4 separate regions of the Homo sapiens genome follow, and all the other regions are linked to region 2. Evidence: fine-mapped expression QTL. A gene starts in region 2. Each other region holds a variant in brackets. All regions are shown on one strand. Distances are from middle to middle.

Region 1 (7,448 bases), 68 kb before region 2:
TCAGGTTTAGTAACCATAAAGTGGACTTGATTTTGTAAGGATTATTTTCTGGTAAATGCATTTCAAGGTTCAATTAGCTAAACCTGTGTACACAAAAAGGTGTCCTACACCTCGCCTCAGAACATGACTTTCACATGGTTGGAGATGGTCAGTTTTGCAAGCCGTCAGGGCAGAAGTGAATGATGCAATCTTGGCTAGAAGTTAACTTCTTGGTATGCCCCTTGTCTGGGTTCTGCATTTGTTCTCACTGCATACACACATGCTCATGGAACTCCTCAGCAGCACAGTGCCAGGCGACAAGCCCAGGCATTCCTAAACTATCTCTAAAGCAATTGCAAGAAAATAAACTCCCTCCTACAGACCCACGGGGACAGAATCTGCTGTGCACAGGCTGCCTCCGGTTCTATTGTCAGCCAGCTTGTAGACATCAGAGTGTGTTGTAGGCCAAAGAGGAGAAAGACAGGTTTTTTTTCCCCAAGGAACTATGGCCCTCAGTTTGTAAAGGCACAGAGCCCAGACACACCTCACACCACCTGAATTCAAATCCCCATTAAGAAACAGCTTGGGGGCCAGGCGCGGTGGCTCACGCCTGTAATCCCAGCACTTTGGGAGGCCGAGGCACTCCAGCCTGGTGACAGAGCAAGGCTCCGTCTCAAACAAAAAAAAAGAAAGAAAACTGCTTGGGCACCATCTGGACAATCCTCTCCTCGACCAGGAGGTGGTGAACCTGGCCTGGCAGCCTCACCCCACAACTTTACCCAGAACCACCCCATGACTCACTACGGTGTGGGCAACAGCACCCCAGCCTTGCCAGCCCTATCCCTACCACTGGATTCTGACGGGGTCTGGGCTTCGGCTAGGATATTAATTCTACATCCATTTCTCCCCTTCACATTTTGCGTCTCCACCCGTCAGTGATATAAGAAAATACATAGATCTCCTAAAAGCTATTCTCCTTTCCTCCTGATTCTTTGTTGTTAGAATTTTACCGAACCACTGAAAGCTAATAGTAAAAGTGCTTGACAAAGGAAGAGCCTCCGGAAGTTAAAGGTGTTTGGCAAAAATGAATGGGGCAAACTGTAATCAGCAGCCGCACCTTTGTAAATATATCGACCAGGCTCTGCACCTCTGCAAGAGAACTGGCAGAAACCTGGGCTCAGGACCCAGATGGCAAGAGCTCAACACCACACCATTGTTTACTACTTGGAGGACCTTGGGCAGTTTGTTTACACTTTCAGTGCCTTTGTTTCCTCATCTGTAAAATGTGGATAATAATGACATCAACTAGGTAAGTTAGTTGAGATAATGCAAATAAAGCAATTATCACAATGCCTGACAACATATGTATTAATCTTCACCCACCAGATCCTTCCATCATCACCATCTCAATCCAGCAAGCATTTCTGTGATGTACCACCATGCCACTCTCGCCACTGTCTGGGAGACACCTGATTGCTAGATGCCTTCATACCTGAAGGGTTTGCTGTCAGGGTCAGTGTCCTTGAACCCCATCTCTTCAAGCTTACAGCGTCGGTACAATTCATAGTGGCGGGTGTGAGTCTGCTCTCGCAAGTCCTCCATGTTCACGCGGATCAGCATCTCTCGAAGTTTCACAAAATCGCAATGATTTTCATTCTCAACTACAAGAGAGGGGGGAAATGGCGGAAGTGGGATTAGCAATGATGTCACTGAAATATCTGCAGTGATGCTTCCAAGATGTTATTACCATCACTCCTGAAATCTCTGGGGTCTCAAGACCATCTGAAGATCCTTTACTGGATTCACCTTACATTCCTGACGAAGACAAGATTTCTGACAACATTGACCATAATACTGATGACAACGCTGACTGCTGAGTGCCTACTCAGCACAGAGCACAGAGGGAGGAGCTTGAAAACAAATATTGTCTTTACCCTTCATAATAACTCTGCCAACTAGATGTCATGACTCTTGCTTTGCAGACGCAGGAGCTTGGTGAGCAAGCTGACCTCCCAAAGAGAGGTAGCAGGGTCTAGATTCAAATGCCAGAACATCTGGCCCAAAGCCAGATGTATTTGTACCACTCCATGCTGTCTATAACTGTGCAGGGCCACTTTTACATACCACTTCATTTAATTTTATCAACAACACTAGGAAGAAAGGAGTTTTCTTATTGTAGAGAAATTAGTAAGAGTAAGAAAAATTGTATTTTTCCCAGGGATCTCAAAGGTACTGTTTCTTCTCACAGCTTTATTGCCTTTATTCAAAACAGAGGAAAAGGAGGTCTGATACATCTTAAACCAGCGAAGAACTTTCTTTAGCCATCCTGCTTAATCCATAGCACTGGATGTCCTCCTTCAGAACATAAGAGTAGGTCATAGAGTCCTTGTCATTCAAAGTGACACACGTGACAAGCTTTCAGGTTAGACTGTGGCCATGTCCCACAGTGCCAAATATAGATCAAATATTCTCCTAAGTCTCAGATTTACTAAGATAACATTTTATTAGAAGACATTTTTTGCATAGTTGATGGAGAAAAAAGTACCCTCTTGTTTGCAAGAAACTTTTTGCTGCTTTTTAATACTTGGCTGATGAAACGAGCTCCAACTCCTAGGGAAGAACTATTTTTCAATCAGGACTTTATATTAATTCCCTACACAACCCAGCATCCTTGAGGGGTTACCTCAAGGGCTTGGCAGCCATGTCTCTCCATTGTCTACCTAGCTGATTACTTTTTCTTTCTTCCTCACCTCCACGATTGTCACATGTGGAGCCCCACCACTCCCTCCCACTGCCAGCCCACTGTTGAGGGCCTCCCTAAACAAGACGGAAAATGAACAAACACGGCCATTCACATAGGGGCTAAATATGAAGACTCCATCTCCCATGCTGTGCACATACCCTGCACCACACCCCAGGGGTACTGCCTGGCCTTTGCCATCTTGTTGCCAATCTTCACCTCTTCGGTGCTGCCAACCACTGCAAATGGGAGATGGACCTGCCAAGCAAAAGGACAGAGAATAGTTACTTTCCCCTGCTCTGACAGACTGGTTTCCACCAGTCTCTATCTTCTCCCTCCTTCTGCAGGCCTCTACTTGGTGACAAGGGAAAAGCAGGCTGCAGTTTGGTGGGTGGATGTCACGTATCCCACCCCCCTTATAACCAAACACTGAGTATGAGACACGAGCTAGATTCAAGGGAAAAGTGTATGAGTCTTTGCAACTATAAAGTAAGCTTAAGACTTGTGCTAGCCGATGCAGTAGCCACTAACTATATGTGACTGTTGAGCACCTGAAATACAGCTTGTAGGAACAAGAAATTGAATATCTAACTTTTAATTAGTTTACATCTAAATTTAAAATGGAAGCAACGTAAAATATTTTTCAATTAAATGCAACTTTATTGTTTTGGCAAAACTGCATTTCACTTTGCTTCAAACTCAAATCTTCTGAAAAAGACCAAGGTAGATGGCAAGGTAGACACAAAGATTAAAGATAAAGTATCTTTTTGGCACTTATTTCATATTGAAAATCTTTAAGGTATGTTAGGAGAAACCTGTATGTAAATTTAACTTTTTAGCTGTGAATTTTA[C/T]AAAATGTAAATACAGATAAAATATTTTTGGTGAAAATTCAGTCCACGATGAGATATGCTGTCATTGTAAAATATACACTGGATCTCAAAGACCTACATTAAAATATCTTTTTTTTTTTTTTTGAGATGGAGTCTCGCTCTGTTGCCCAGGCTGGAGTGCAGTGGCGCGATCTCGGCTCACTGCAAGCTCTGCCCTCCGGGTTCACGCCATTCTCCTGCCTCAGCGTCCCAAATAGCTGGGACTACAGGCACCGGCCACCATGCCCAGCTAATTTTTGTATTTTTAGTAGAAACGGGGTTTCACCGTGTTAGCCAGGATGGTCTCGATCTCCTGACCTTGTGATCCGCCCGCCTTGGCCTCCGAAAGTGCTGGGATTACTCCGAAAGTGCTGGCGTGAGTCACCGTGCCCAGCCTAAAATATCTAATAATTTTTATATTGAATACATGTTGAAATTATATTTTGCAACATATTGGGTTAAGTCCTTAAAATTAATTTCACATTTCTTTTTACTTTTTTAAGGTAGCTACTAGAAAATTTTAAAATACTTGTGTGTCTCACATTATAGTTCTATTTGAACAACACTGCTTTAGACAGTTGACTATTGCACAAATTTCTAAGTCCGAAACACACTTTAGCCCAAATTACTGGCTCAAGCTATGCACCCAGATTTATCTGAAGTAGAGATGGTGTCCAAGACAACTGACTCTTTCACATTGGTTTATTTGGTAGTTATCACTGCATTCTGAGTGAGGGAGGAAATAATAATCCTATCTTTTTTCTATTAGCATGTAAGAATAAGATTTGAAATAGCTGCTCCAAGAATTATTATTTAGAGTTCCTTGATCCAGTGTTCTTCCACCATAGATACACTGAGAAAGAAGATAAAGTTTTCAAGCCAATTCCTCTCCTACAAAGAACTTGGCATAATCATTGGCTCAGATTGCCCAAGTAGCATTTTGTTGGACGCTCAAGATATTGAAATGTTCTAGTTCATCTCACACCCTAAGAAGGAAAGAAAGCACATTATCTTTCTCAAACAAGTCTGAGTTTCAGACCTGAACCCTATTGTTTCCCCTGAAGTTGAGGAGCAACAGGACCTTTCTGGTCAATATTTTGGTGTAATGACCAAGGAAATTTCTCCACTCAAATGTAACAAAAGCAACTGCCAGTGGAATCTGTTTTCCTCAGACATTACGTGGAATTTGATCAGCAAGAATAGTTTGTAATGAAGAGCCTAAAAGAAAATTTCTTTAAAGAGCAGGATTAATTTGGAATGTCAGAGATTCAGTTCTATTAATCTGATAAAGAGAGAAAGAGAGCAAAAATTCTTGGGTATTTTATTTCCAATAAGTTTAACAAAGATATAGTTCCATGACTAGAAAATAATGAAAAATTATCTAGAAGGATAGGAATATAAAGAAAAATTACATAGCAGTCATTCATGATACTTCCTGAATCCCACACTGACATCCCAAATTACAGTTCTACAGCAGAATAAAGGAGTGCCATCTCAGTTTGAGATTTTGACCTTCCTATAAAAAAGTACAGACCTCCTGCAGTATCCACAGGGTACCGGTTCCAGGACTGTCCATGGACACTGAAATCTGCAGGTGCTCAAATCTCTGATATAAAATGGTATAGTATTTACAAATAACCTATGCACATCCTCCTGTATACTTTAAATCATCTCTAAATTACTTATAATATCTAAGACAATGTAAACACTATATAAATAGTTATTATACTCTATTTAAAAAAATTTTTTTTGTAGAATTTATTTTTTATTTTCTTGCTATGTTGACCAGGCTGGTCTTGAGCCCCTGGCCTCAAGTGATCCTCCCTCCTCGGCCTTCCAAAGTGCTGGGATTACAGGTATGAGCCACTGTGCCTGGCCATATATATATATATATGTGTATATATATATATATATATATATGTGTATATATATATATATGTGTATATATATATATGTGTGTGTATATATATGCTATATATATATTTTAGCATATATAATATATATGCTATATATATTATAAAAACAATAATACAAAATATATATATATGCTATATATATACACATATATATATATATTTTGTATTATTGTTTTTATTGTTGCATTTTTTTTTTCCAAATATCTTTGGTCCATGGTTGGTGAAATCCATGGATGCCGAGGCTGATGGTACACTGCTCTGCTCGGGCGGCAGTACACAGGGTGAGAGTGTAGCCTGACAGCCAAAGCCTGGGTTCCAATTCTACCTCCACTACCCACAGCCATGCAATCTTAGGTGCTGTGCTGCAGTCTCCTCATATATGAGGGAGGAATAATAACAGCACCTACCTATGCAACTGTTGTGAGGATTAAATGGAAAGTCTTGAACAGTTCCTGGTGCATAGTAAATGCTCCAGAAATGTGAAAAATGTCAGGTGCTATTATTATTATGTAGCTCTCAATACCCACAACCAGAGAATTTTAGAGGTGGAAGAGATCTTGCTTATTATACGTTCAATCCTGCTTAAGAATTCCTGCTACAGTATCTCTTCCAAGTGGACTGAAACAGGGTCTGTTATCTACAAACCACTGGCGATGGGAACTCACTACTTCCCAAGAAGTAAGGTGTATCTTCCATCTCAGTGGCTCTACTAGTTAAACACTCACTTCGTAATGGGACCAAAACCCCTTGGTGATCTTTTGTCCATTCATTCTTTTGCACAAGTCTAGCCATTTTCCCTTGTGGCAACCTTCCTTTCACACCCCATCATGCCTATTTCCTGGGAAGAATCTGCTTTCCAGATTCTTCCAACAATTCTAGAGCCTTTACTACTTTGAATTCCAACAACCATCACTGGGCCTCCACTATATGCAAAGCATGTGGCTTTCATGGATGTTATGCATTCCCAAAGGGAAAAAAAGATGTGCAGAGTCATTGCAGCTCACAGCTGAGCTATGGGCTGTGAGACACACAAAAGAGTAGTGAAACAGACTTGAGCATCAACCGGCAGGATGGAGACTCACCAGGAGGGATTACATCACAATCACACAGGGAACCACTGTCACTTTAATCATTTATCACCTGACTAGTTCCTCTCTGTGATGTGGAAATTGTATCCTCAACTGCCAGTTTACCTAATGATTAGAAAAGTATAGGGAAAATAGAAAGGAGGGAAGGGCAGGATCCAATCACCAAAGCAAAATTGGGACAAGCTAATGTATTTCTGCCAAGATTGGTAGAAACAAGCACAGATCTATTTCCTTTGAGCTGCTTTTTATGAAATGGTACTGGGCTGGCATTTCCTTCTCACAAGATTTGCTGTAGAAATCGTAACTGTTAGAGTGGGAAGGAAATTTGAGATCATCTTGTCTAAAGCTCCCATTTGACAGATGGAGAAACGGAGGAGCAGACTGGTTAAATGACTTGAAGTGGTGGCAAAGCTGGACTACAGCTGAAGTCATCAGGTTCCTAGTCAGTCCAGTGCTCCAGCCACTCTACAATGCTGCTACTAAGACAGGCGTTCATAAAAATCACTTGTTCCCATTTGACTTGAGGACTTACACTCATTGTTGCGTTAATCTCTGCCACCGTTTCTTCATCAGTGGGAAACTGATATATCTGGACCCCATTGCTGACCAGTTCACTCATGATCTTACTCTTGAATTTGTGCAGTTCATTCTTGGCAATGGTGTCAGCTTTTGCAATTATTGGAATGATGTTCACCTGTAAAACAGACACGTCCATTTTTACACAATTCCAACATAAGAAAAATAGACAAGTGAATAAAACATAGCAAACAAATAAAAATTGCAAAACCTTACTGTAAAAAATAAAGATGTTTCCTACTTATATCAAAACATCTCATGTACCCCATAAATATATACG
Region 2 (7,448 bases):
TGGATCCCAATAAAATGATAAAATCCAAGAGCAGCGTCTATCCCCAACCAAATTTAGAGTCCTATAAAGAGAAACACAGGCACAGAAAACTCTGTGGGCTGCGCCACAGTCTAAATCCGATGATCATGATCAGTGTGACATCATCATTGGGTAGAATATAAACACTTGGTCTGCTGGCAATCAATCAAGTAGGCCATCCAAATCAAGGAAACAGCAGAGTCCCACAATCATTTGTTCCTTTTGCAGACATAGGATGGCCCATGCCCAAACACTAAGCATCCACTTCCTTCATTTTAAGAGTATTATTCAAATGGTCACACAGGACTCATTCAGGCACACAGTTTGGTTTCTAGGTGGCAGTTTATACAAGATGGGTTATGTCTGCTCAAAAAAGTGGTGAAATAGACTAAACACCTAAGAACTATTATATCAGGATAGTGGGTTATGGGCAGTTTTGTTCTTTTAATCAATTCCTTGGGTCTCCTTTTCACTGTAATGTAGACACATCATTTTTAAAGATGATAATTTAAAAGATAAATTAATCTATAACTTTCGAAAGATTTTAAAAGGAGAGATTATTGTACCTCAGAAACTTCTTGCATTCCTTAATAACTGCTTATAGAGCCTCAGTATGTATAATTTATATCACTGACTAAAAAGTTCTAATTTTTGAAAACTGACCTGAGATGACAGTCCCTTTATTGTTTAGGTGGCCCTCCCCTGGACCTTTCTTGGCTCCATTCATGTTTCTCCAGGCACACCGACCACAGCCATCCATCTGGGGCCACATTTTCAAGTCACAAAAATGGCAATTTTATAACAAGGGAAAGTAACATTTTATTGGCAGTACTCCTCCACTTCCCACACTCCCTGCCCTCATCTTTAAGAATTGCCTATAATTATCCCCAGACAGATATGATCCTTCACCTGAATCATATTTGCTGAGTCAGCAATAGGCATATAATTCCTTTTCTCCCTAAATGATTTACACATTTACACTGAAGTCTGTCACTTTAATACACCAAATCTCTCAAACAATAAAGCTCCTGGTAAGAAGAAAACTTGTCCACTGCTATATCCCCAACACCTAGAACAAGTTCCTGACACATAGCAGGTGCTTAATAAATGGTGTTAAATGAGCAAATGGAAACTTGGTTTTCCATTTCCTTCAGCTCAACAGATAAAACAGCAATTAAGTGCATTTCTTGAAGGATATCATAGGGAAATCTCCACCACCAGTGAAGTTTAAACACATATTTTTTGTTAGGGATAAAGTAAGAAATATTTCTGCACTGGGGAGCAGGCTAACCCAAATGACCTCTAACGTTCCTTTCAACTCCTAGAGTTTTTAAACTGATGAACACCACAGCTTAGGAGAGGCCATCAGCTACATAAAGCCTGATTCCCAAGTAGAGTAAATTGCCATGTTCTGTTTAAAATAAAGATAATAGCTGCCCCGGGATTTGGACGCAAAAATGCTAATTCATCCAAAATGCAGACACATCCCTTGGGAGTAAAATGTTCTTGCTAATCATCAGTTATACTAGGCAAACAGCAGATGTGCTTCAGGGTCTTCTTAGGGCTAAGCCCAAAAACCATCAGTGGGGAAATGGAGAAGCTAGGGATCAAAATTAAAACTGAAATAAACAGTATCACACTAAATTGAAGCTTTGTTTTGCAGTCAACAACAAATCCACTTAAGAAACTTACCTGAATTTAGCCTTGAGGTTTGAATGGTTTGTAACAGAATATAACCATTTCATAAGATAGAAAATAGTGCATTTGACATGTAAGCATTTTTGCCCACTAAAATGTCATATTTACCTGGGATATCACACTCAGATGTTCCCATTCAAGAATATCAAAAATTTAGGGTAAGTTATTCAGATTGCATTTTTCTTCAGTCTGGCGGGGAGAGGTAGTTATCGCAAAAGGAGATATATGTCCTAAATAACTTTTTAAAAAATCTAATTAAATACCTAGGGAAATTCCATTCACACATAAATCAACTTCGGAGTGGTTCTTTTCCCTCAGCGCACCCTTCCTTTCTTTTGGTGAAATCACAGACTAGATAAGAAATGGGAGGGCCAGAGAACTCTTAACTTTAAAGGTGCAGTGTAGATTCCATGGAGCTGTGTCTCAAGAGTCTTCCCCATTCATTGACTTTGTTTTAAAGCCATAACTGCAGAGACCACACTTAAGACAATAGCCCAATGAACAAAGTGAAAGGATTCAACAATTATCTGTGAAATGTGATCACATATTTTCTGTAGACTTTCTAACTTTATAGTCAATTCCTAATCACTCGTACATTAGGTTTCCAAAAGAAAAGTCTTCTGTCTTTAGATTGTAATTTAATTTTAATTCCAGTGACAACAGAGTGCGCAGAAAGAAGTCACTTCCTCTGTGCACGTATACTTAAAAAAAATCTCCTCTATTATCTGAAGAGGGAGGTCTAACATAAGAATTCTGTGGGATTAAGCTCACATATGGTTGGCCGACTTGGTGTTGGATGTGATTACGGCCACACAACTAAACCTTAAATCCACATACTGTTCCTATTTAACTGACATATATGAACTAATTTATAGAAAATGTGCAGCTAATTATTTCTTCCACCTCCTCCATCCCTCAAGAATGCACCAGCAATAATACGTGTTACTGAAAAAGCCAAACACCCCCACTGAATATTTGCAATCCTAAACGTTTGCCAATTTATCTAAAGCAGATATTGTTATTTTAGTTCTCTGAATCTATGCCTGCTAATAAGTATAATGGGGGGCAGGGGGAGGAGTAATTTAACCAGATAAATTTCACCTCTATAGACCTCAATTTTCTCACCAAAAATAAAACGACTAGCCCAGAGACTATGCAAATTCCCTCAGTAACAATAACCTACATGTGACCACTAATTATCAAGAGCACAATTTATGTGCAAAAGAAGACCAGAATTCTTAAAAGAGCCATGTCATTAAATCGTAGAGTTGAAAAGGCCTAAAAGACAGTCATGATTCGATATGACCGCTGTGTTTTCTGACTGCAGAAAACGTCTTTGAAAGCACCGCGGGCAGCCGAACCACCAAATCGAATTAGAATCCGCAAAGGGACCCATGAACTTCTCCCGAGGGGGTAGGGTGCAAAAGGCGCGCGTATCTGGGGAGGAGTTAGGCGGGGAGAGGGGGAAGAGCCGGGAGCCTGAGAGCACAGCCTTGCATTTCTGGGATTTCCGAGCTTCCAGTATCTCAGTAAGTCTTTCGTCTGTAACTACAAAATCTCCCGAGCCACCACCTGCAGCTGCACAGCTGTGGGAAAGGGAAGAAGAAAAAGGGAAGAGGAGGTGATAGACAGGGAAAGACATCGCCCGAGGCGCCCCCAAAGCCAGTAAGGCGAGTGGACTGTGAACATCGACGATGAAAAGGGGAAAGGGAAAACAGGAGGACTCCGCCTTTCCCACCCAGCTCCGCTCCTTTCAAAAAAAAGGAAAGGCCGCCGCCGCCCCTTCCTCCGCCTTTCACTTGGGGATGCGGAGCGGCCACTGAACCGCACCCTCGGAGTCCCGCTCCCCTCCGGCCCGGCCCCGGGGCGCGGACCGAGTCTTGCAACCCAGTAGGCGCGGCGCCTTGGCCCACACACTCGGGGCAAAGGTATCTCCTCCCTCCTACTCTCCTCCCTCCCGCCGTGGGGCACTCGATTCTTCACGCACCCGCCCGCCCTTCCTCTTCCTCGCGTCCCAGCCTCCTCAGCCCGCCGCCCCCGGCCTTTCAGCCGCAGAACATTTCAGTCCTTCCACCCACACCACAAGGGAGCCTCCAGAAAACTTTGTGTGTGTTATCTGGGGCTTTGTCCACATCCTGGGCAGGGCCCGCTCAGCCGGGTGGATGCCCGAGGGTGTCCGGGATCTCACAATGCGCTGGGGAGGCCACCACGGAAATCCCACCCCTCTGACCTGCTTCTACAGCAGTGCCACACGCAGCACTTCAGCTCGCAATTCCCATGCCCTGAGCGCCCCCTCGGCGCGGGGGAGACTGGAGGAAAGCCCCGAACCCGGCGCCCTTCTGGCTGTCACGAGGGAAGAGGTGCGCGGGCAGAGGGAGGCGGCTGAGACACGCCGCGCCTCAAAGAATTATTTTAAAGGGAACAGGAGAGGGGTCCTTTTTCTTTCGCATTCCCAGAAGAGGGGCGCGACGAGGCGATCCACTGTTGCATCACGTAACTGAGCCCCTGGGCTCCTAACCCCGACCCCAGACGCGCGCCCAAATTCGTGCACACACCCACAGCCGTCGCCGCCGCCGCGGGGCCGAGCACCCGCCCGGCTCCCCTGTGGTCCTCACCGCACCCGCCCCAGAGCAGAGACCACCCGGCGCCCGAGGAGCAGCAGGCGAGGCCCCAGCACTCACAGACGGTCTCCCCACGGCCACGGCCATCGCAGCTGCGGCACCGGCTCCGGCTGCGCCCGGGTGCTTTACGCCGACTCCGGCTGCTGCTAGTGCTCGGGCTCCGGCTCGCCTCCCTCGCGCCTCCCTCGCGGCTGCGCTCTGCTCGCCGGCGTCCCGCTGGCAGCCAGCGGCATCTGCTCCCCCCACGCCGCCGCCCCTCCCGCTTTATTAGAGCAACATGGCCACCCGCCTGGAAGGGACCATTCGCTTCCCCAGGAAGGGGTGTGAGCCTGCGCGCCCGGCCGCGGTGGTGGGCGGGAGGATGGTGGGCGGGCTCCGAGCCCAGCTCCACTGGCCCCGGCCGCGGGGCTCGCCCCTCCGTCCCCAAACGACCGTCTCCGCTGCCATGAGATGCCGACAGCCTGTGCGCTGGCCGCCACCCCCTGCTCCATCAGGTGCTGGAATCTGAGTAAAAGCCTGGGCGCGAGCTCCCAGCCCCGGGGCCTGCCACCGGCTCCACGAAGCGGGCAGCTCCAGCGGCCGCCGGGAGAAGGAAGGGCGACCGGGGGAGACGGGTCGCAGGGACAGCACGTGGCGGAAAGTTAGCCCCGGACTAGCACGCCCCACCCGGAGAAGCCGGCCTGGAAGGGGCTGCGGACCACCAGGCGGAGCGGTGGGCGACCGAAGTGCGGCTGGGCTGGCCTCCTCGTCTCCGCACTGGAAGAATTGCCCTTCCGCAAGTCTTCCCTTCCCACATGGGGGCCCTCCAGGCCGCACCTCGGTCGCCCACCGCTTCCCTTGAGAAGGGAGACTAAAGACAGGCATCTGGAAGCTGTCACTGTGGCGCGCGGGCAGACAGGGGATCCCATTGGAGAGGAAGAGCCGTAGTAGTCGCTGCTGCCTTCGGCCGACCCAACGGCCGCCTGCTTGGGAGGAAGAAAAAGAACGCCCCCGCTGAAGAATTAAGGCAGCCATTGGTTGCTCTAGGGGTAAGGACCGAGGCCTCCCCTGGGTGTCACTGGAGCAGCCACACGTGGGGGATCAGCCGACTTCATTCGATCGCTGGCGACAGACCCGGCGACCCGTAGGAATGCGCGCTGGGGCTGCGGCTGGAGGGCGTGGCGACGGCAACAGGCGGGTGGCTCGAGTGGGTGCGACTCTGGGCGCGTGGGACTGAGAACTCCTCCGCCGTGGGGAAGATTTTTTTCCCAGCAGATGTTGGGGTGTTACTGCGTGTCTGAGGGGCCGGCGGAATGGAGGGGTCCCGGTGCGTGCAGGGCAGCGAGGTGTGTCAGATGAGCTGTGGATCCCTGCGGCCCCACGTGGGCCGGAGAGGGGGGCCCACGACAACAAGCGATTGAGGACAGCGATGGACAGGGCGGGGAACCAGCTGGGTGGAAGCACAGGGAGTGTGGTGAGGAGGGAAGGGCTGTGATCTGCCCTCGGTACGACGCCCCAAGGGACAGCCTGGCCTCCTGAATTAGGGAAAAGACAACCGGTCTCTTTAGACGGGCGCCTCAGAGTCTGACCTGAGTCTTCAAACGCCCAGATCCCCTGGGGCCTTGAGTCTCCCTGTCCCGCTGGCCCTGCCTCGCCTGCGCTTCAGGACTCCGACGCCCCCGCAGCCTTGGGCTAAGGGTCAGTCGTCCCCGGGCGCGGGTCCGGCTGCCCTGGAACTGATGCTGGATTTCGCTGGTAGGTGGGCTAGGGGCTTGGTCACCCCGTCTGAATTCCACTGTCAGGACAGCTGTGGAACCGCCAGAGAAAAGTCTGGCCATGAAAGAAAGGTGAGGGGCGCCGACGCAGAGCTTATTTATTCAGTCTGTGGGCGGACTCAGACGTGCAGAGCACCAACCTCTTCAATTTCTGCCCTCTAGACTCCAAATCTTTTGAAATTAGGGACCACCATTTTATGCCAAACATACAGTAGGCGCTCAATAAGTGTTGAATTAAGATTACACATAAATGGGCCGGGCGCGGTGGCTCACGCCTGTAATCCCAGCACCTTGGGAGGCTGAGGTGGGCCAACATGGTGAAACCTTGGCTCTAAAAAAATGCAAAAATTAGCCAGGCATGGTGGCGCTTGCCTGTAGTCCCAGCTACTATAGAGGCTGAGGTGGGAGAGTCGCTTGAACTCTGGAGGCGGAGGTTGCAGTGAGCCGAGATCGCGCCACTACACTCCAGTCTGGGTGACGCAGTGAGACCCTGTCTCAAAAAATATATAATAATAAGATTACACACAGATGGGTGCTGTGCAAAGGGAGGGGGAAGACAAATACTTTCTTCTGCAGCTCTGGTACATGGACATTTTGTCCTTTCTCCATAAGGAGGATCAGACAGCAGCAGCACTGCCCATGGACCAGAGGCCTCATGTAAGGCCTGGGAAAAGAGGGCTCCACACACCACCAACCGGATGTAAGGGCAGTTGCAAAGGAACTGTGTTATCTTGACCAGAACAGACTGTAGAATTTGTTTATCAAATTTTTTTTTTTTACTTATTTATTTTGTGAATGTATATGCTGTAAACTCATCTGCTTAGATTGTAAGAATGTGAATGCCCTACCTTGGTGGGTAGGTTAGTTTATTCTAATCAGCAAAACTTAACGTTACATATTCCAACATCTCATTTGGGATGTGAAGATGCTATGGGGAGGGTGGGTATCCTGGCATTGCTAGAATGTTGGAGCCTTAGCGAGAGAGTGGCAGAGTGGGGAGAACCTGGCACTTCAGCTACAGATGATCACTTATGAGCTTTGTTATATCAAATAAGTTAAACTTTCATCTCATTTTTTTTTTTTCTATTGTAAAATAGGGTAGTAACAGTGAGTCCTGGGGGAGGACGTGTTCTGTTAGCCAGATCCACTCTCCAACCTGCTGTCTGTCCTTTGGAGCCTTAACTCAAGAGACTTTCTTTCCCTCTAGCTTCCAGTTGAGTGAAGGCACTAGGAAGCAACAGCGATGGAACAAAGAGGAAGGAGTATGGTTATTTATTCCCCCCTGGCTCCCTTACTATGGCACCATTGCAGGCTGGTTGCCTCCCTCAACCAAAGGAAGCAGCCAGTATCCCTCCCT
Region 3 (7,448 bases), 39 kb before region 2:
TCAGAGGAACACTTCTCTTGGGTTGTCCCATCTGTACTTCAAACTTGATGTTCATGAAACTGAAATCATATTCCTCTATCCCAAACTCGCCCCTTCTCCAGAGTTCCCTATTTCTGTTAACAGTACTTAGCCATGCTTGAGACCAGCTCCCCTCCCACCATCAACTCTGAAGTCTTATCAATACTACATCCTCCACATTTCTATTCCTACTAATTCAACAGCCTCCCAACTGGCCTCCCTGACTTGATCTCACCCTCTCTAATACTTCCTCCCTCCACCTTGCCATCAAGGGGATCTCGGTACTCAAGGTCCCCAATCCAAACTCCTTGGCCTGTCATTTCAGGGCCCCATGGGCTAACCTCAAGTCTCCATTCCTACTGAACCTCCCACTTCTCCCCAGGGAGCACCTTACACTGCAGTTAAATTAAATGACCACTCTTCTTGGGACAAACCCAGGTTTCTTCCCATCAGAATTTACTCACATTATTTCCTCTATGTGAAAGGCCCTTACAGCCAGTGTTTACATATCCAAATCTTCCAGATCCCAATAAAATTATACCTCCATCATTGTCTTTATTATGAAATCTTGGGGAAAATTTCACCAAACATTCTTCTGACCAATAAAAGGAAAATACTGATTGAAAAGCTGCTCAAGCTATTTGGAATTCCATCATGATAATAACAGCTAACATTTATCCCTTCCAATGCTCCAGAAAAGCCCTAATTTCTCTCTCTTAATAATTCTATAAATTAGTTACATTGTTACCCAAACTCAATTTACAGATGAGAAAACAGAGGCACCGTTTAGTAACTTGCCCAAGGTTTCCCAACTAGTAAAGTCAAGGTGCTGAAATTGGAACCCAGGAAGTCAGGTTCCAGAGTTGTCGAACATAGTCATTGCTATCTCATGAAACTGAAATTTATCTCATGAACTGAATATTAAGTTCCCAGGTAGCCCCAGACAGCATAATTATTTCAGCTGTTATAAAAATCCAATACATTAAAATAGAAGGAAAAAAATACTCTGAAACCATGATTCTCTGGCAACCTTAAGAGGTGGAAATTGAGAATTAGAACTGGCAAAGTAGCTCCAAGTATATTTTCGCTGATCCTGGCAATGCCAAGACCAAATATGATTTTTGTAGTGATGGCACATGAAACCTATAATATAATGCTTAGTTTTAACCATTTTTGAAAAGAAAGTGCCAACACAGAACCACTAAGTAAGTAACTATAAGACCTTAATTGATTTAGCCCTGCATTTGCTAATCTACCTAGTAAGGATTTGTAATTAGGTAATTTCTATAGCCCACTCCATCTTGAAATGGATTATGACTAACCTTTATGGTATAAAATAAACTTGTTTTTCACTTGACAATTTCACTTTTCTCTTTTTAGAACATATCCTCTTAGATACAATTATTTATTTGTTCATTCAAAAATACCCACTGCTCAAAGCACTAAGAAAGCTAAAATAAGTTATTTTTATAATTCATTGAAGAACACTGCAGTTCCGACCCTTAAGAGGTTTTACAATGTAGTAGTAGAGCTAGGACAGATGTAAATGTAGGACTATGAAGGATAAAAGTCATCAATACCATGGCGTCAACTACGGGAAGGCATGGAGGAGAAGTAGTTTTTGTCTAGGGAAATTCAGGGGGTACCTTTTAGGAAAGCTAAAGTTCCCCAAATCTATCAGTGAAACAAAAGCCCAGCTTGCAGAACCCTTCTGGATAAATGTTTCTATGCCCAAAAGGTCACTTTCTTATGAATGTATACCTGAAGTGTATAACTGGTAGTTTTTCAGAAAATTCCCAGCTGACTTCATTATTGAGATAATTATAAAACAAATTATGTAAGAATGTGTGCCACCACCTACATTCTGAGCGCTGCTGTAAAATATGTTCCACAATTCCAAATCTTGCTTCACCAGAGAAGGGCAGCAAAAGGCTTAGAGTCAGACAGACATGGGTTTGAATCCCAGCTTTGCTTTCTACTTGCTTTAGTCTCTATTCTGCCCTCAGTAAAAACAGGAAGAGGTGCTAGGCTCTCTCATACATATCTCCTTGGCAGGGTTGTTGGGAGGAGATAAAGAGGTATGGATGAGAGTGCCTAGCACTTAACAGGTCTTCTGAAACTTGGACTTCCTTTACCTACAGTAGTTGGGAGGAAGAGGCAACTATCATTTAAAAATCTGAAATTAATCAGAAGTTCTATTACAGCTGCTAGGCATTCCAGGAGAAGCTGCTGACCAGCAGGGCTCTCGGACATATGAATAAGGTAAAATCACAATAAAAATAAAGTGAACAGAAAGAAATAAAAAACGAGAATGATGATTCTAGCCTGAAGAAAATCCATTCCTAAAGAGAAAACTCATTTACAAAGCTGGAGGAAAAGCCACAAAATCACATTCCTGTTTGCAGAATCAGCAGTTAGCAGAATCCACATCCTCCCCAGCTGGGAAGCATTCTGGATTCCCCATCACTTTTGCTTCTGCAGTCATGCACCACTTTGTGATGAGGAAACATTCTGAGAAACATGCCAGTAGGTGATTTTGTTCTTGTGTGAACATTCTAGAGCAGTGGTCCCCAACCGTTGTGGCACCAGGGACCAGTTTGTGGAAGACCATTTTTCCACGGACAGGGTTGGTTTGGGGATGAAACCGCTCTACCTCAGATCTTTAAGCATTAGATTCTCATAAGGAACGCACAACCTAGATCTCTCCCATGCACAGTTCACAACAGGGCTCAGGCTCCTATGATAATCTAATGCCTGAAGCTGATCTGAAGGAGGCAGAACTCAGGCGGTAATGCTGACTAGCCCATCACTCGCCTCCTGCTGGCCAGCCCAGTTCCGGACAGGCCACGGACTGGTCTCAGTTGGCAGCCTGGGGATTGGGGACTCCATCCTAGAGTGTACTTGTGAGACGTGAAGCCAGCTGGCCTTCCTGGGTCGAGTGGAGACTTGGAGAACTTTTCTTACAAGAGGATTGTAAAACACACCAATCAGCACTCTGTAGCTAGCAAGAGGATTATAAAATGCACCAATCAGTGCTCTGTAAAAACACACCAATCAGTACTCTGTAGCAAAAGGATTGTAAAATGCACCAATCAGCACTCTGTAAAACGCACCAATCAGGAGGAGTCTAAAAGTAGCCAATCGCGGGGAGGATTGAAAAAAGGGCACTCTGATACAACAGAAACAGAACATGGCAGGGACAAATAAGGGAATAAAAGCTGGCCACCCAAGCCAGCAGCGGCAACCCGCTCAGGTCCCCTTCCACGCTGTGGAAGCTTTGTTCTTTTGCTCTTCACAATAAATCTTGC[C/T]GCTGCGCACTCTTTGGGTCCGTGCCACCTTTAAGAGCTGCAACACTCACCATGAAGGTCTGCGGCTTCATTCTTGAAGTCAGCAAGACCACAAACCAACCGGCAGGAACAAACTCCAGATACACTTACACAAACCTAGATGGTATAGCCTACTAGACACTTAGGATATATGGGATAGCCTATTGCTCCTTGGCTATAAACCTGTACAGAATATTACTGTACTGAATGCTGTAGGCAACTGTAACACAATGGTAAATATTTGTATATCTAAACATAGAAATGGTACAGTAAAAGTGCAGTTTTATAATCTTACAGAACCACGGTTGTATATGCGGTCCATTGTTGACTGAGAGTTTGTAAAGCAGTACATGACTGTATTTTAATCCAGCCCTGGGTCTACTGAAATTAACAAGCTCGGTGTGCCCAGATGGATTTTATTCACCATACTTAAACTGAAGTGATATCCCTTTTCTTTACTTTTAAAAATGAAGTGTTTCGGTAGATGTGGTTAGATAGGCCGTAGCCTCTGATCCTTATCAGCAGGCGGAAGCAAGACAGCATGTTACCAAGGTGATATTTGAATTGTTTAATCCAAACAAATTAAAATTACGTTTCCATTCGAAAGCAATATTTAATTTTTACCTTTAAAATCAGGTATTACAATTTAAGTTTAGAAAGATTTTTCTCTTTAAAATTTATTTTTTTTTAAATTTAAGAGATAACATTTATGTATTCAGGTGGAGAGCTGGAGATTTTTATTAACAAGACATGGTGATTACATTTTTCTCAACGCCTCAGATTATGGATAAATAAAGTATACTGATCCAAGTCACTTAATCCTCGGGCTTATGTTTCCTCCTCTGTAAAGTGAGGAGATTTAATCAAATTACCTCTAAACAAAGTCTCTGGTTCTTTGTTTTTTCTAATTCTAAGGCTTCTTAATCTGGATGTTAGAGATGCATAAATCCAATTCCGTCATTTTGCTTAAGGAAAGCCAACACAGGGTGAAAAATTCCTGGAAGCATATTTGCTCTGGCCAGATCAAGATGGCTCAAGTTTTAATTGACCCATGAAAGGGAGTTTCTATCAGTTATGCTGGGAAACTCCAAACCAAATGGAAATCTGTGTGCATAACCTCTGTGTTTTCCACCTCAACTTTTAATTTCTGCTTAACTACAATACATATGAATTAGCTAAGAAAGTTATGTACCCACTGTTTACAAATGCCCTGCTTAAAAGCAATTTCTTTTTGTTTGGCTACATCTCCAGTCATCCACGAGATTTTTGAAAAGTGGATTTATATCCTCAAAACAAAACCTAGGGCTGGGCGCAATGGCTCATGCCTATAATCCCAGCTACTTGGGAGGCTGACGCAGGAGGATCTTGCTTAAGCTCAGGAGTTAGAGGCTGCAATGAGCCAGGATTGTGCCACTGTACTCCAGCCTGGGTGACAGAGTGATATACTTTATCTCCAAAATAAAAAAACAAACAAAAAACCTAGGAAATGACTTCTCTGTATAAGTTAGTTATCTGTTCTCAAAAAGAAAAGCAAATCTTTATTCATGCTTTCATTCATTCAGCAAATATTCATCGAGTACCAGTGTGGGTAGAACACTGTGTTAAATGCTAAGGATACCATGATGAAAAAACAAAGCCTCCCCAACTCATGGAGCGTACAGGGTAATGGGGCACACAGATGTCAATCAAATAGTCACAAATACATAACCATAAAGCTATCCAAAGGACAGGATGCTGTGTAGCCTTATAACTCATGTGATTAACTACTCATTCTTTGAGTGAATTCACCAGCCTATAGTATGTAAAAATATGTATTAGTCCAAAGCACTGTTGAATATTAATTTAATAGGCGGCCCCTGTGTACAGCTGATGTGCAGGTTTCACATATTCAGATGAAAACAAATAGTCTTTCTGAGCAGCAGTACCTGATGGGAGAAGGTAGAAATATCAGAACTCAGGTTTCAAGGGAACAGATGTCCAATTTTAAAGAGAGCTGAGATGAAACCATGGGGCAGCAGAGGGCAGAGGAGACATGTACAGTACACTCCTTTGAGCTCTGTCTTTTCTCCTTACAGAATACCCACTTGGAAAAGAGAAGAAGTACATACCCCTTCATCTTAGGTCATGTCTTTTTCTGAGGTCCTATTTCAGTAGTACAGACGCCTCTGAGCTGAAGAGAGGTAAAGAAAAGAACATGCTGTCTCGCACACAAAATCTTTGACTGACCACCAGCCACCTCCCAGTATCTGGAGAAATTCTGGCCTCACGAACTGTCCGCAAAGTAAGTTTTATTTAAGTACCCTGATTAATCATTTCTGTAGATACACACTCTTATCTGACTGCATTCTAGAAAGTATTGAATTGGTTTCACATTCTCTTTTAAAAAAAGAAGGTTAATGGGAAGATGGGAAACGCCCTTAGTTCTCATGCAAAAGGGAAAACACTGGAATGCAAAGTTTTGACCCAAACCACAGCTATGAAGCCAGCATCGGGATGCTTTCAAAGCTAAGCATTGCTGGGGTAACTTTCATAATATAAAATGTCTGGACCATCTCATTACCAATGAGAATTGCATTCTTTAAAGATGATTTGAACAACATTTGCTACTCTGCTTGTCATCTATACCATGAAATCCCATGCCTAGAGCCAAGAAAACCCCCAAGGAAATTGTCTCACACAAGCAGCAGAACAGAGAGCGCCAGGCGGCAGTGAGGAACTGTTAAGAGAAAAACCATATGGTAATACAAGGAAAGAACAACTTCTCAGTGCGGCCCAGCTGGAAGCTGAGACTAAGGAGGAGCATCCAGGAGCCAGCCCCTAGGTCACAAAGCCAGGTAGATAAGCTCAGAATGCCAAACCCAGGGAGCCACTCTGGAAAACATATCATATAACCAAAAAAGCACTTGATTAATACTGAATAATTGTCCCAATTCCAAGTGCTATCTCCAAGTAACTTTCTCCAGAAGACTCCCAGTAGAGGAACACATTTTGCTTTTCCAGATCCTTACAAAATTAATGCCGTGTGGGGGTTTTCTTTGGGGCTGGTAAGATTTTCGGGAAATGTTACCTTTTAATTGTTTTGTTTCTGTAACATTTGAATTATTACAAAAGAAAAAAAAGCTGTAGTTTTATAATAGAAAATATATAAGATTTTTAAAATCCAGGAACATCAATAACAATAATACTAAATAAAGATCTTTTTTGAGGAGGTAAGCCCACAATATTTATTGTAGCTAATAGGTAGGTTAACAGAGTAAAATAGGAGAACTTAATTTTTCTAATAGTAGAACCAAGTCATGTTGAAAGTGACAGGAGGAATCGGAAAAGTGGAAAAGTGTAGTGGAAGGTGCCCAACATGTGAAGTCAAGACAAGAGCACCTCTTTCATAGTTTAGCTGTGTGACCTAGGGTATTTAACTTTGCCTCAGTTTTGTCAGCTTTAAGACACATTCTCTCACAGGGCTGTTGTAAAGAATTAATTAACATATTTATCTTTTGTCAGCTCATTTTACACACTTTTCTTGCCCATCCTTGCCCATGACTTTAATAGCCAACCATAAGCTAACAACTCCCTTTGTCATGACCCACACAGCCCAATCTCCTCTGCTGGGCTTCCTACTGTACAGCATGGCCCAGGCATCTCTAAGCCAACATCTCGGTGGAACTCAGCCTATCCCCATTCTCAATTCAAATAAGTCCTCCTATTTTTTTCACGCCAAATAGCAGCAATGTCTACTTCAAGGTATAAGAGAGTCCCCCAGAATAACATGTATTAGCATGCATCTGATAAAATCTGCACAGTTATAGACCTCCACCCTCTTGCAGGAGAAAAAAAGCCCACTGTTTAATCAGCTTAAACCCTCCCCTATCCTCTGAATTGGACAGTGAAGACTTGAAGTCATCAGTATCATGTTAGCTTTTCTCCTCTGTGCCCTGATGTATACCTCTAACATTTGCTGGTCACCCACCACACTCTTTTCGGCCAAATTTTTCCCACTCTGCCCTTTGGACATAACTACAACCAGTCTACTACCAGCTGGTTTCCATCCCTAAGCCCTGAAATCCAATGACTAACTTTGATATTTCTCTTAACGCTGCCCTCATT
Region 4 (7,448 bases), 140 kb after region 2:
AATACCCAAAAGAGCCAAACCATCCTGAGCAAAAAGAATGAAAGTGGAAGAATTTCATTACCTGACTTCAAATTATACTACAGAGCTATTGTAACCAAAACAGCATGGTATTGGCGTAAAAACAGACACATATACCAGTGGAACGGAACAGATAACCTAGAAATAAATCCATACATCTATGGTGAACTCAATTTTGACAATGGTGCCAAGAACATACACTGGGGAGAAAATAGTCTCTTCAATAAATGGTGCTGGGGAAAGTGGATATTCATATGCAGAAGAATGAAACTAGACCCCTATCTCTCACCATATACAAAAATCAAATAAAAATGGATTAAAGACTTAAATCTAATACCTGAATCTATGAAACTACTAAAAGAAAACATTGGGGAAACTCTCCAGGAAATTGGTCTGAGCGAAGATATCTTGAGTAATAAAAAGCACAGGCCACCAAGGCAAAAATGGACAAATGGGAATATATCGAGTTAAAAAGCTTCTGCACAGCAAAGGAAATAATAAACAAAGTGAAGAGACAATCCACACAATAGGAGAAAATATTTGCAAACTATCCCTCTGACAAGGACTTATTAACCAGACTATATATGAAACTCAAACAGCTCTATAGGAAAAAAAACTAATAATCTAATTTTTAAAATGGACAAAAGATGTGAATAGATATTTCTCAAAAGAAGACATACAAATGACAAACAGGTATATGAAAAGTTGCTCAACATCATCAGTCATCAAAGAAATGGAAATCAAAACTACAATGAGATATCATCTCACCCTAGTTAGAATGGCTTATATCCAAAAGACGGGCAATAACAGATGCTGGCGAGGATGTGGAGAAAAAGGAACCCTCATGCACTGTTGGTGGCAATGTAAATTAGTATAATTGCTGTGGAGAACAAGTCAAAGGTTCCTTAAAAAACTAAAATAGAACTACACTATGATCCAGCAATTCCACTGCTAGGTATATATCCAAAATAAAGGAAATCAGGATATCAAAGGGACATCTGCACTCCCATGCTTACCGCCAGCACCACTCACAGTGGTCAAGATGTGGAAGCAACCTAAGTGTCCATCAATGGACAAATGGATAAAGAAATGTGGTACATATACACATTAGAGTACTATTTAGCCATTAAAAAACAAGGTCCTATCATTTGTAGCAACATGGATGGTCATTATATTAAGTAAAATAAACCAGGCACAGGAAAGACAAACTTCGTATGTTCTTACTTGTTTGTGGGAGCTAAAAATTAAAACAACTGAACTCAAGGCAATAGAGAGTAGAAGGTTAGTTACCAGAGGCTGGGATGAGTGGTCAGATGTAAGCGGGGAAGAGGGGATGGTTAATGGGTACACAAATGCAGTTTGAAAGCATGAATAAAATCTAGTATTTGATAGCAAAATGGGGTAATTACCGTAAACCATAATTTATTGCATACTTAAAAATAACTATAAGAGTATAATTGGAATGTTTGTAACACAAAGCAATGATATATGCTTGGGGTGATGGTTACCCCATTTACCCTGATGTGATTGTTATACAGTGTATGCCTAGATCAAAATATCTCATGTATCCCATAAATATATATACCTATGTACCCATAAACATTTAAAAAAATTACCTAAGAGACATAAATAGGCTGGCTCATGCTGTAATCCCATCACTTTGGAGGATTATTTTAGGCCAGGAGGAGTTTGAGACGAGCCTGGGCAACATAGTAAGACTCAGTCTGTTAAAAAAAAAAAAAAAAAAAAGACATACAGCATCCAGCTGAAAGCTTGTGTTTCCAAAGCTCCTCAATAGCTAGTTTCCTGGTTTTGTTTCTTTGAAAGTATCCGACAGCTATTCCAATGTTCCCTTTACATGAATAATATTCATTATAAAGAGCTACCGTTTATCAAGCACTTACTCGAGTAGATAATAATTGCATTAAGAGTGTCGTTTAATGCACTTTGGGAGGCCAACAGGGGTGGATCACTTGAGGCCAGGAGTTCGAGTCCAGCCTGGCCAACATGGTGAAACCCCCTGTCTACTAAAAATACAAAAATTAGCCAAGTGTAGTGGTGCATGCCTGTAGTCCCAGCTACTCAGGAGGCTGATGCAGGAGAATAGCTTGAACCCAGAAGCGGAGGTTGCACTGAGCCGAGATCACACTACTGCACTCCAGCCTGGGCAACAGAGGGAGACTCTTTCTCGAAAAAGAAAAACAAAAAGAAAAGAAAGAAAAGAGAAAAGAAGAGTCTCACTTAGTTTTTAACTTAGATAAGCAGATACAATTATGCCCATTTTACAGATGAGCAAACAGAGCCTCAGAGAAGTTAAAACAGACAACCTTAATTCACAAGTCAATAAGCCGCAGTTATAGGATTATAAACCAGGTTTGAGTGAATCTGGAGCTCCTGTCTTTAACCATTACAATTTATTGACTTACTAGCTTCTCCACTTTTCTTGTCTTTGTTGTTGTTGTTTTTTGTTTTGTTTTTTTGGGACAGGGTCTAGCTCTGTCACCTAGGCTGAAGTGCAGTGGCACAATCATGGCTCACGGCTCACTGGAGCCTCAACCTCGTGGGTTCAAGTGATCCTCCCACAGCAGCCTCATGAGTAGCTGGGTCTACAGGCCTGCCACTATGCCCAACTAATTAAAAAAACATTTTTTTTTGTAGAGACAGGGCCTCATGATGTTGCCCAGGCTGGTTGCAAACTCCTGGTCTCAAGTGATCCACCCACCTTGGCCTCTCAAAGTGCAGGGATTGCAGCTATGAGCCACTGTGCCTGGCCTGCTCTACTTTCCAATGCCACTTCTTTCTTTCCTCTTCCTCCTCTCCCTTCAATATCCCTTTTCCTACCAGTATCTTTAACTCTAAGCTTTGAAAGCATCTATTTTGGAAACTGCAAAGAAAATAAATCTGTTGGGATGCTCACCACAGACTTGGGGCAAGTCATTAGCGTGGGAAGGGGAAGTGGAGAGGGGGCACAGGGAAGTGAGGGGCTAACAGGTTGCAGGAACACACATCTGAGTGTGTTTGCTGCACCCCATCATCTTTCCCAGACAAGAGGTGACAGATCCATGGAACAGGCTTCCAGAAGAGGGGAGCTCCCCCTCAGCTTTTCAGCTTCTCATCCTCTGGATTCTTCTTTTTTGACAGTGATGTTTTCCACCCGAAATATTGTCTGGACTGCGGGTCGGCCGAAGGCGGGAGGGAAAAGGGGCCCAAACCGGAAAGGGGGGTGGGGGGAGGAAGAAGAAGCAAAAAAGAAAAGCAGCTGGAACTCGTCTCCTGGGGACCAGCCAAGGAGGCCCAGGCCCTGGGAAATCTGCTTGTCTCCTGCTAAGCAATCCCTCTCTCAGCTTCCTTTTCAGTCTGTGTGACCCCCGACTCAGACCATGTGTGGCAGCTCCCAACAGCAGGCACTGCAGATGTCCCAGCAGAGATGGA[G/A]ACCCCCACTGGGAGAGGAGACCTGCTTCCAAGCTGTGAGGAGCCAGCTGCCAAAACTTACAGATGTCCTTCCAAGTGTCAATGTTGCAAATCAGAAAAAAAAAAAGTCCATGGGTATGCATGACTCCAGCCAGGAGGGCAGTGTGGCCAGCAGATATGTGGATTCTTAGTGACAGAAGGATAATAAAAGTACTGGACTTGATAGAAAGAGGAATTTTAAAACTTCAGCACTCTTATTTCTGCAGGATTCTGGTCTCCAGATTGCTCAGCAGAGGGTAGGCGCCCTCGTGGAGGGAAGGGAACCAGGAAATGAGTTTCATTGAATGAATGTGGGGGAGAGTGAAAGAATTCTCTACGGAGGGTCTTAAAACCATTCCGGGCTTGTTTTAAATTTAGAGAAAATTAAGTCATTCTGCAATCATTTTAGGGCTGTGCATGAGGTCAGGAGAAACTATTTTGGAAAATAGATTATATCATGTCACTTCTCTGCGTAAAACCACTGGGAACTTCCATTAGAATAATGGAAGCCAGGCAGAGCAGCATGCTCCTGATCCGAGCTACTCAGGATGCTGAAGGAGGAGAATCCCTCCCTTGAGCCTAGGAGTTTAAGACCAGCCTGGGCAACATAGCAAGACCCTTTATTTTTTATTTTTATTTTTTTTGAAGAGTGAGTCCCGAATGCCCCGCCACAACCTGCAGACCTTCCTGGCAGACCCTTGTCTATATTTCCCGCCTCATCTCCCATTCAGTAGACTCCCCACATGCTGGTCTTCTTTTGATCCTGCAAGCTCCAAACTCAGGCTCTTTATTGAACCCCTCAAAGGGAACCTGCTGTTCTCTTTTCCTAGAAAAGTGGTGTTCCTGGCCTTAGCTTACGAAAATGCTTTTCAAACTACAGATCATAACCCATTAGTGGGTGGTGAATTAATTTAGTGGGTCACAACTTACTTTTCTTTTTTTTTCGAGATGGAGTACCGCTCTGTCACCAGGCTGGAGTGCGGTGGCACCATCTTGGATCACTGCAACCTCTCTCTCCCAGGTTCAAGCCATTCTCCTGCCTCAGCCTCTCAAGTAGCTGGCATTACAAGCATGCACCACCATGCCCAGCTAATTTTTGTATTTTTAGTAGAGATGGGGTTTCACCATGTCAGGCTGGTCTCAAACTCCTGACCTCAAGGGACCTGCCCGCCTCAGCCTCCCAAAGTGCTGGGATTACAGGGATTACAGACGTAAGCCACTGCAACTGGCCCATAACTTATTTTTCTAAAAAAAAAATGTGTACATGTATATTCTGGATACTGTAAAATAAATTTCTTGCTAATGGGTCTTAGTTCATAAATGTTGACAGCCAGTGGCTTAGGAGTTGGTGGTGGATAATTCAGGCTTTGTTTTTTGTTTTTTGTTTTGAGACAAGGTCTCATTCTGTTGTGGAGTTCAGTAGCATGATCTCAGCTCACTGCAACCTTCACCTCCTGAGCTCAAGCAATCCTCCCACCTCAGCCTCCCAAGTAGCTGGGACTATAGGTACATGCCACCACAGCTGGATAATTTTTGTATTTTTTGTAGAGTCGGGGTTTTGCCATGTTGCCCAGGCTGGTCTTGAACTCCTGAGCTCAAGCAATCTGTCCACCTTAGCCTCCCAAAGTGCTGGGATTAAAGGCGTGAGCCACCACGCCAGGCCTTTTATTATTTTTTTCCCCTAATAGTGCAGAGGCACTATAACCAATGTTTGATAGAAGTGAATTGCACCTGGCCTCAAAGATCATTAACCAGCTTAACGAATTTTTGGTGTCCTATGTAGTGGAAGAAAAGAAGTGTGGGAGTTAACAAAATGAGCACAAATTCTTCCCTTCCCTGCTCTCTTGCCCTTGCAGTGTGATTGCAGCTCCACCTATCATGAGATGGACTTTATTTCTCGATCTCTGGAATCTGGGCCGAGCTTGTGACTTACTTTGATCAATGGAACAGGTAGCAAATATGACACAAGCAGAAACTTGAAAAGTCCTAGCACATTAGGGCTTGCCTACTCTTCCTACTCTTGAGAATCCCGTAACAACCACCTTATTTATAAGCCTCAGCAAGCCTGCTGGAGAACGAGTGACACGTGGCCCTGTTACCCCACTGCCCTAGCTGACAGCCAGCACCAACCACCAGACATGTGAGTGAGGCCATCCTAGGCTAAGTGCCCTCAGCTGACCCACTGATGAATTGCAAACACATGAGCAAACCCAGCTGGGATCAGCCAGGCCTGGCCCAGATCAGAAGAACCAGCCACTTGACCTGCAGACTTGTGAGTAACAATACGTGACTGTTGTTTTAAGCTACAAAGTTTCAGGATGGTTAGTTATTGCATCAAAAGCTAACTGATACAAGGAAAATGGGAATGGAAATGGAAGTTAAAAGAGGAAATAGATGAAGGCCAGGCACCCTGGCTCACACCTGTAATCCCAGCACTTTGGGAAGCGGAGGTGGGTGGATCACTTGAGGTCAGGAGTTCGAGACCCACCCTGGCCAACATGGCGAAACCCTGTCTCTACTAAAAATACGAAAAATAGCCGGGCATGGTGGCGCACACCTATAATCCCAGCTACTCAGGAGGCTGAGGCATGAGAATAGCTTGAACCCAGGAGGCGGAAGTTGCAGTGAGTCGAGATCATACCACTGCACTCCAGCCTGGATGACAGAGCAAGACTGACTCAAAAAAAGAAAAAAAAAAAAAAAGAAAAGATAAATGAAACAGATGTGAAAACGGAAGTTACAGTGAAATGAGAGGCTGTTGGCAATATTTATCCCTTCTCTCCAGGCCTACAGGGAGGCTGAATTCTTCGTCCTGCAGAACAGTAGGTCCATTCCTGAATCTCAGGGATGGTATTTCAAAGCCTAGCTCAATGTCTAACTTGTAGAATTATCCTCAGTAAATATTTGTTGAATAAATCAATGGCTTGGAGATAATTTCTTCCCTTTGAATTGTAAGATAAAGCTTGGAAATTGGCTAGCAGCTTCCAGTCTCCATGTTGTATACATTTGTGATTGACATAGTTTGGATATTTGTCCCCCCAAATCTCATGTTGAAATGCAATCCCCAGTGTTAGATGTGGGGCCTGATGGGAGGTGTTTGGGTCATGAAGGTAGATCCTGCATGGCTTGTCCTTGCAATAGTGAGTTCTCAGGAGATCTGGTTATGTAAAAGTGTGGCACCTCCCCCCATCACACTCCCACTCTCACCATGTGACACACCCATTCCTGCTTCACCTTCTCCCATGAGTAAATGCTCCCTGAGGCCTCCCCCGAAGCTGAGCAGATGCTGGTGCCATGCTCGTACAGCCTGCAGAAATTGAGCCAATTACACCTCTTTTCTTTATAAATTACCCAGCCTCAGGTATTCCTTTCTAGCAATGCAAGAATGGCCTAACACAGTGGTATTAATAGGAGCGTGGCTATGTATGGGATGCATGATTAAAAGTTCCACAGCAGGCACTGCTGTTTAGTCAACCCAATATCCTTTCCTAAACTCCCATTTCCTTGTCATGTTTTACTACAGAGGCTTGGAAAAGTTAATATTCCATTTTCCAGACTCCCTTGCAGCTAACAATGGCCAAATGATGAAGATCAATGAGATATAAATGAAAGTCTGCTGGAATGTTGCTGGAAAAAAATTTGCTTTTCTAATAAAAGCAGCTCTGGGGCTGGGCATGGTAGCTCACACCGGTAATCCCAGTGCTTTGGGAGGCAGAAGGAGGAGGATCACTTAAGGCCAGGAGTTTGAGACCAGCTTGTGCAACATAGTGAGTCCCCCGTCTTTATAAATACAAAAAAAATTAGCCAGGTGCGTGGTACACACCTCATACTTCTGGCTACTTGGGAAGCTGAGACAGGAGGATCACTTGAGCCCAGGAGTTTGAAATTGCAATGAGCTATGATTGCTTCGTTGCACTTCAGCCTGGGTAACAGAGTAAAACTCTGTCAAAAGAAAAAAGAGAAGAGAAGAGAGAAAAGAC

Direction of the effects. Alleles are on the strand shown, and positions count from the first base shown. SD is a standard deviation of normalised expression in the study named. Not every link is listed here.
In carriers of allele C in region 1, the expression in hippocampus of the gene that starts at base 4,576 in region 2 tends to be lower than with T alone (small effect, 0.24 SD a copy in GTEx).

The links. PIP is the estimated chance that this variant, and not a neighbour inherited with it, causes the effect.
Region 1: its variant is fine-mapped to the expression of SEPTIN11 in hippocampus (GTEx, PIP above 0.99).
Region 3: its variant is fine-mapped to the expression of SEPTIN11 in whole blood (TOPMed, PIP above 0.99).
Region 4: its variant is fine-mapped to the expression of SEPTIN11 in lung (TOPMed, PIP above 0.99).

What each region holds. Positions count from the first base shown.
Region 1 is chr4:77,014,694-77,022,141 of GRCh38, reverse strand. SEPTIN11 (septin 11) reads right to left here. Exons shown (of 10, transcript NM_018243.4): 5 at 7,125-7,286; 6 at 2,881-2,977; 7 at 1,472-1,640. It overlaps LOC105377291 (a long non-coding RNA gene), which reads left to right. Exons shown (of 2, transcript XR_001741734.2): 2 at 1,366-7,420. Among named protein-coding and RNA genes, the nearest start is that of CCNI, 58 kb to the left of the region's middle. RefSeq lists an enhancer at 6,335-6,867. The variant C/T (reference allele first, on the strand shown) is at 3,571.
Region 2 is chr4:76,946,880-76,954,327 of GRCh38, reverse strand. It overlaps SEPTIN11 (septin 11), which reads right to left and starts at 4,576. Exons shown (of 10, transcript NM_018243.4): 1 at 4,398-4,576. The coding sequence starts at 4,424. It overlaps LOC105377294 (a long non-coding RNA gene), which reads left to right and starts at 4,763. Exons shown (of 3, transcript XR_001741739.2): 1 at 4,763-5,365. RefSeq lists silencers at 4,282-4,591, 4,622-4,801 and an enhancer at 5,712-5,791.
Region 3 is chr4:76,985,875-76,993,322 of GRCh38, reverse strand. All of the region lies in intron 1 of SEPTIN11 (septin 11), which reads right to left. Among named protein-coding and RNA genes, the nearest start is that of SEPTIN11, 40 kb to the right of the region's middle. The variant C/T (reference allele first, on the strand shown) is at 3,327.
Region 4 is chr4:76,808,144-76,815,591 of GRCh38, reverse strand. LOC124900719 (a long non-coding RNA gene) reads left to right here. Exons shown (of 2, transcript XR_007058150.1): 2 at 3,363-3,664. Among named protein-coding and RNA genes, the nearest start is that of SHROOM3-AS1, 9.4 kb to the right of the region's middle. The variant G/A (reference allele first, on the strand shown) is at 3,451.